2 separate regions of the Homo sapiens genome follow, and region 2 is linked to region 1. A link means that fine-mapping ties the variant in region 1 to the expression of a gene that starts in the linked region. Tissue or cell type: prefrontal cortex. Region 1 holds a variant in brackets; the other region holds the start of a gene. All regions are shown on one strand. Distances are between the middles of the regions.

Region 1 (2,678 bases):
TCACCACCTCCAGGAAGCCATCCCGGACTGCCCAAGCCCCTAGTGTTCACGCCTTCCTCTGAATTCCCTCTCTGGTTGGCTACGCTTACTTGTCCCAACCTAATCTCTTGGGCTCGATGTAAATTTGTTAGGCGGAGATCAGTGAGGACACTGATCTTCGCATCCTCACTGAGTAACACCTGGGAGATCTGCCACATCTGCTTGTGGCGCAGGGGGCTCTGCTGAGTCCCCAACATCCTCTTCCTGATGCAGGCCTCTGCCAAGGTCTCCCACGCCCTTTCAGGCTCTGTGCAAATCTGAGTTCCAGGCAGCCTCCTCTCATCTCCTGGTAGTCTTTCCCTTGCCTGCTCAATGTTGGCCCCGGGCCCTGGTTTAAGGGTCTTGGGTGAGCTCAGAGAGATGGGGCCCATGAGACTGAGTGAATCACTGCCCCCAAAAGATGTCCACATCCTAATCCCTGGGACCTGTGAACATGTCCCCTCATGGCAGAAAAGGGATGTGCAGGTGGGCTTGAGGATCTTAAAATGGCAGGTGATCCTGGGTGACCTCATGAGAGGAGGCGGGAGGCTGAGAGTCAGAGAGGCTGCGCTGTGGCTGTGAATGGGGAGGAAGGGGCCCCGAGGCAAGGCACACAGGTGCCTCTGGACACTGGGAAAGGCAGGAAACGAGTTGTCCCCCAGAGCCTCCAGAAGGAATGGAGCCCTGTGGACTGTTTGGACTCTGACCCCAGAACCAGAAGCTGATACAGCCGTGTCATCTGAACTACTGCGTCTGCAGTGATGTGTCACAGTGTCTGCAGGTGTGCAGGGGCACGCTGAGGGACAGGGCACAGTGGCCGCAGGTGTGCAGGGGCACGCTGAGGGACAGGCCACAGTGGCGGCAGGTGTGCAGGGGCACGCTGAGGGACAGGCCACAGTGGCCGCAGGTGTGCAGGGGCATGCTGAGGGACAGGCCAGCTGTACTGCTGACTTGTGGTGGGGCCTGAAGTCACCCCTTACTCTATGGGGGCCCAGGAGCCCTCCCCAACCAGTTTTTATTCCCTGGGCAAGTTTATGAAAATGATCAAGCATGGTAACTGGTGAGGTGGACCTCCCAGCTCACTGCAGTATCACGGCTGCCCCATCAGAAGTTCAGATGTCACAAAAGCCCACCTAGAGATGCCCATTTTTACATGTTGTCACGTAAACTTCGAGAAACCACCACTGTGACCATCGCCATCCCTTCACAAAACAAAGAACATTCCAGTGTGAAAAAGGAGACTGTGACACCAGAAGGACTGTCCTTTGCTGGGAACGCCACCCTCTGGCCCCAAGGAACCCTCCCCGCCTCGGGCTTCTTGGCCACACATTCTTCAGGACCAGGGAGAACTGCACCCTCTCCATGCTGGCGCCGTCAGCTGCAGGCCACGCCAACTCCTACAGTCCCTGCTGCCACAACAGCTTACAGCTGCCTGGGAGGTTCTGTCTCCGGACGGCC[C/T]ACAGGCGGGCAGGATTGTGTGGGTGCCGCCCGGACAGGTTCATGAAGTGCCTCATTTTTCTCTGGAGGACATTCAAGCATTTCCTGGTCAAGTGACATGAAACTCACATCAGGGGACGTGCGTGGGGAGCCCAGCAAGCAGCCTCCCACCAGGCCGCAGCCGCACTTGCCTCTCCACACATCACAGAAACCACAGTCCTCCACGCATCTCAGCACCGAACCAAGCCCTCGCTCGGGGGAACGTGTGAGAAGGCAGGGAATCGGCCTTCTTTCACGGATGCACTCCAAGAACCCAGGAGGGGCCTGGTGCTGAGAGGCACTCCCACACACAGATCTCGGGGCGTCATCAAGCGCTCCCCTCTCCCGGGAGGACGACCTGCTCCTTTCGTCATGAAGGAATTCAACAGCATGCGAACGCCCTGCTTGTCCCTGTCGTGGCCTCTCCTGGACCACGCCCCTACTCTGAGGCTAAGCTCTGCAGAGCCATCACTGGTCTCTACCCCCAAGCCTGCACTCTCCACAGCGCCCACCCATGCGTCCTCATGGCCGGCAGCTTCTGGCAGAGAGAAGAGCAGTGGGTGGGACGTGTCTGCGGAGGACCCAGGGCCCAGGAGGAGCGGAGCTCAGCCTCAGGAGCGACCTGCGCTTTGCTCCTCCATGCGGAAGAGGCAGCACAGCTTCTGGGGCCAGGACAGGTGCAGATGGCCACACCAAGAGCCACCAATCTATCTTGATGCACTTATTTCCGGGCACATTTTAGTGACATTTCCAGAACGTTCTAATGACACGATGGCTGGGAGGACTTGGAGAAGGAACTTAGATGGCAAAATGCTAACAAAGCCAAGAGTTCAAATCCATCTAGGGCAAGCCAAGTTACTTCTTAAAACTGGCCAGACAGAACGCCCCAGCGGCCAGTGGCTGGCTCAGGACACAAGCTCCAGCTGTCACAGGGAGCACCTGTGGAGTCTGGCCCACTGAAACCTAAACCCAGACCAATACTCAACCACTCACCAAGTAAAGCTCTGATCCGAAAACCAGAAACCATCCGAACCCAAGCCATCGCAGCCACCGAACACCCACACTGTCCCTCCTCAGCAGCTGAAATGGGGCGGCACCCCGGGGAAGGTCCCACGCTCGGATCGCCCACAACCCTCGAGGAGATCAGAACTTTATTCCCAGAAGAACTGGTATAAAAGGGCCTC
Region 2 (2,678 bases), 970 kb after region 1:
GACCCCAGGAGAGGCACGCTGATGTCACTCCCATTGCACTGATGAAAAGACTGAGGCTCACACAGGGGTGAGACTTTGCCAAAGACAACAGAATGGAAGCCTGTCTCAGGGCCAAGCCCCTGGTGGCCCCAGCAGCCCGGGAGGCAGGGAGGGCGCGGCATACAGGCAGGGGAGAGCGCGCAGCAGGTGCTTCCACAGGAAGAGGTGTGGAGCACAGGGGAGGCTCTGCACAGGGCCCATAAAAAGCAGCATGGCGGAGTGCAGGTGCTCACATCTATAATGCCAGCACTTTGGGAGGCCAACGAAAAAGGATCACTTGAGCCCAGGAGTTCAGACCAGCGCGGGTAACATGGCGAGACCCCATCGCTACAATAAAAACTTATAAAAAATAAAAAGCGGCTTGACTTTGCCAGGGTGGTGATGGGGAGGGATAAGGTCCTCGCTGTGTCTCTCCCACCCGGGAGAAGCAGCCACACTGGGTAGTCAGGAGCCCAGAGGAGACTGGAGCCACAGGCCAGGGAAGCCGGGGTGGCCTGAACACGCAGAAGCCCCTCCTGCCCAGGGGCTGCCTACAGCTGGAGACCCCCGCGAGGGTCTGGGGACGCAGCTGCACCTCCCGGGCTGTGGGAGCACCCAAGGCGGGCACGTGGCCGACCCTGGCGACGAACCAGCTTCAGTGGGTAGAAGCAGAAAGGAAAATATCGGGACCCCACGGAAAGGCCTGGCGGCAGGCGGGAAGATGAGAACGAGGACGGGCATCCGGCGACAAGGAGCCAAGGAGGCCCCCTCGCCCCGCCAGGGCCTGACCCCTGCCCGGCATGCTCCGGCTTCAGTGGCCCCACCTGGGAAACGGGCAGCGTCACCCCCGAGTTAAGAGGCGGCGCGCTGGGCACCTCCAACCCCAGGCGCAGGCTGGAGAGCGGGTGAGTCCCGTGGCCCCTGCACCGCCCACACCACGTGACGACCCCGCACAGCACCGCCCACGCCCACTCCAACAGGGAGAGAGGGAGGGAGGGAGGGAGGGAGGGGAGGACCCCGCGGCCCGGCACGTGACGCACTAGGCGCGCGCTAATTGGCCAAGGCTGAGAGACGGCGCCCACGTGCGCCTGACGCACCTAAACGCCCGGATCAGGAAGTAGAGCGCGGTCAGGCCGCAGAAGCCCAGGATCACGTAGAAGGAGCGCGTCAGCGCCGAGCCCGACGCCCCCGGCGGACGCGTGTGCGTGCTGTTGTGTGGCGCGCCCGGCTGGCTCCCGTTCGTCACGGCCGGCGGCGGCGACAACGTGACCTGCGCGGGGCGCAGCGGCGAGGCCTCTTCGGCACCGCACGGCAGCGCCGCCAGCAGCAGCGCCAGCAGGAGCAGCAGCAGCGGCGGCTGCAGCACGCGCGGCCCCATGGCCCGGCGGAAGCGGTGGCGGCGCCCCGCCCCTATGCGCGCTGTCAGTCAGGCGCGCGGAGGTGATGCCAGCCAATGGGGCGCGGAGGCGGAGCTTGACGCCGGGCCCCGCCTCCGCCTGGTGAGCCCCGGCGCTACCCACAGTGCCCCGCGCGCCCGCCGCGGAACTTGCTTCGTCGAACCGCTCCAAGGGATCAGGACGGAGGCCCGGAGCCCGCCCGTGGGAGTCCCGGCAAGGCGCAGCCGGCAGAGCCCAGAACTGCCAGCCCAGCGTGGGGGGTCGCGGCTTCCGAGGAAATCGGGCTGGCAGCGGGGAGACGGGGCGGACCCCGACTTCAGGACCTCGGGCCGCTCATTCCCACCCACTTCGGGGCGACCCCCGCCACTCCTGCCCCGGCCTCACGGACACTGAGAACGCGTCGGCCACGTCCAGGGCCCAGGAAGGTGGCGCCCCGCTCCCAAGCCTGCTACAGGGAACCCGGGACTCGGCCCAAGACGGGGCCTGACAGCGGCTGCGCGGCCGCCGCTCCCTCGAAGCCGAGTGCGCCTCAGATCCCGCGAGACTGGAGTCTCCGCGCTGCGAACCCCCTCAGTGGCGAGCCCCCCGCGGTCACTGCTCGGACAATGACCCTTGCAGTCTTCCCTGTCGGGTCCTACTCGTGCGCTGAACCGAGGTCCGCAGGCTTTTCTTCCAGTGGCCCCGCTCCGCCGACAGACCCCCCTGAACCACAGACTCGGCTTTCTGGGTGCACACGTGGCCCTTTATTCGAATCCGACTTTCACAGGGCTCCACATCGTTGTGGGCAAGGACTGGCCGCCCCGTAAGCTGCCGGCGCACCGCAGCCCGTGCTCCAGGAGAGACTCGAGGCCCTGAGCCCGCACCTCACTGGCGAAGCGCCTCCTGGAAGGAGGAGGAAGGGAGGGAGAACAGGCGCGGGCTCCAGGCGGGGGACCCGGCGCTCCCGGGAGGCGCTGCCCTGCACCCAACACACACCGAAAGGCGCCCGCCATGGGGCCATAGGTGCGGGAGAGCAGGACTCACTGAAACGCCCAGGTGCCGCCCGGGACAGGGCTCAGCGCCACATGCCACTCTTCCCGAAAGCACTTACAGGGGACAAGCCTCCTGGGCAAGCGGCTGCCTCCAGCTCTTGTTCCAGGTGAAGTCCCTCCTGGGACAGTGACCCCAGAGGTCATCGCTGCTCTCAGGCCACCCTTCCCCGAGTCCTGGCCGGGCCCCTTCAACCTGCCAAAGCAAAGCAGCGTTACTCCCAACGTCCTCCAC

Evidence for each region. PIP is the estimated chance that this variant, and not a neighbour inherited with it, causes the effect.
Region 2: FAM174C starts here. The variant in region 1 is fine-mapped to the expression of FAM174C in prefrontal cortex (GTEx, PIP 0.99).

Annotation. Positions count from the first base shown.
Region 1 is chr19:2,240,342-2,243,019 of GRCh38, reverse strand. All of the region lies in intron 1 of SF3A2 (splicing factor 3a subunit 2), which reads right to left. Among named protein-coding and RNA genes, the nearest start is that of SF3A2, 4.9 kb to the right of the region's middle. RefSeq lists a silencer at 140-337 and enhancers at 556-850, 2,551-2,678. The variant C/T (reference allele first, on the strand shown) is at 1,477.
Region 2 is chr19:1,274,268-1,276,945 of GRCh38, reverse strand. It overlaps FAM174C (family with sequence similarity 174 member C), which reads right to left and starts at 1,416. Exons shown (of 3, transcript NM_017914.4): 1 at 1,116-1,416. The coding sequence starts at 1,396. CIRBP (cold inducible RNA binding protein) reads right to left here. Exons shown (of 6, transcript NM_001300829.2): 6 at 2,136-2,678. RefSeq lists an enhancer at 307-386 and silencers at 947-1,016, 1,347-1,716, 1,727-1,786, 1,685-1,909.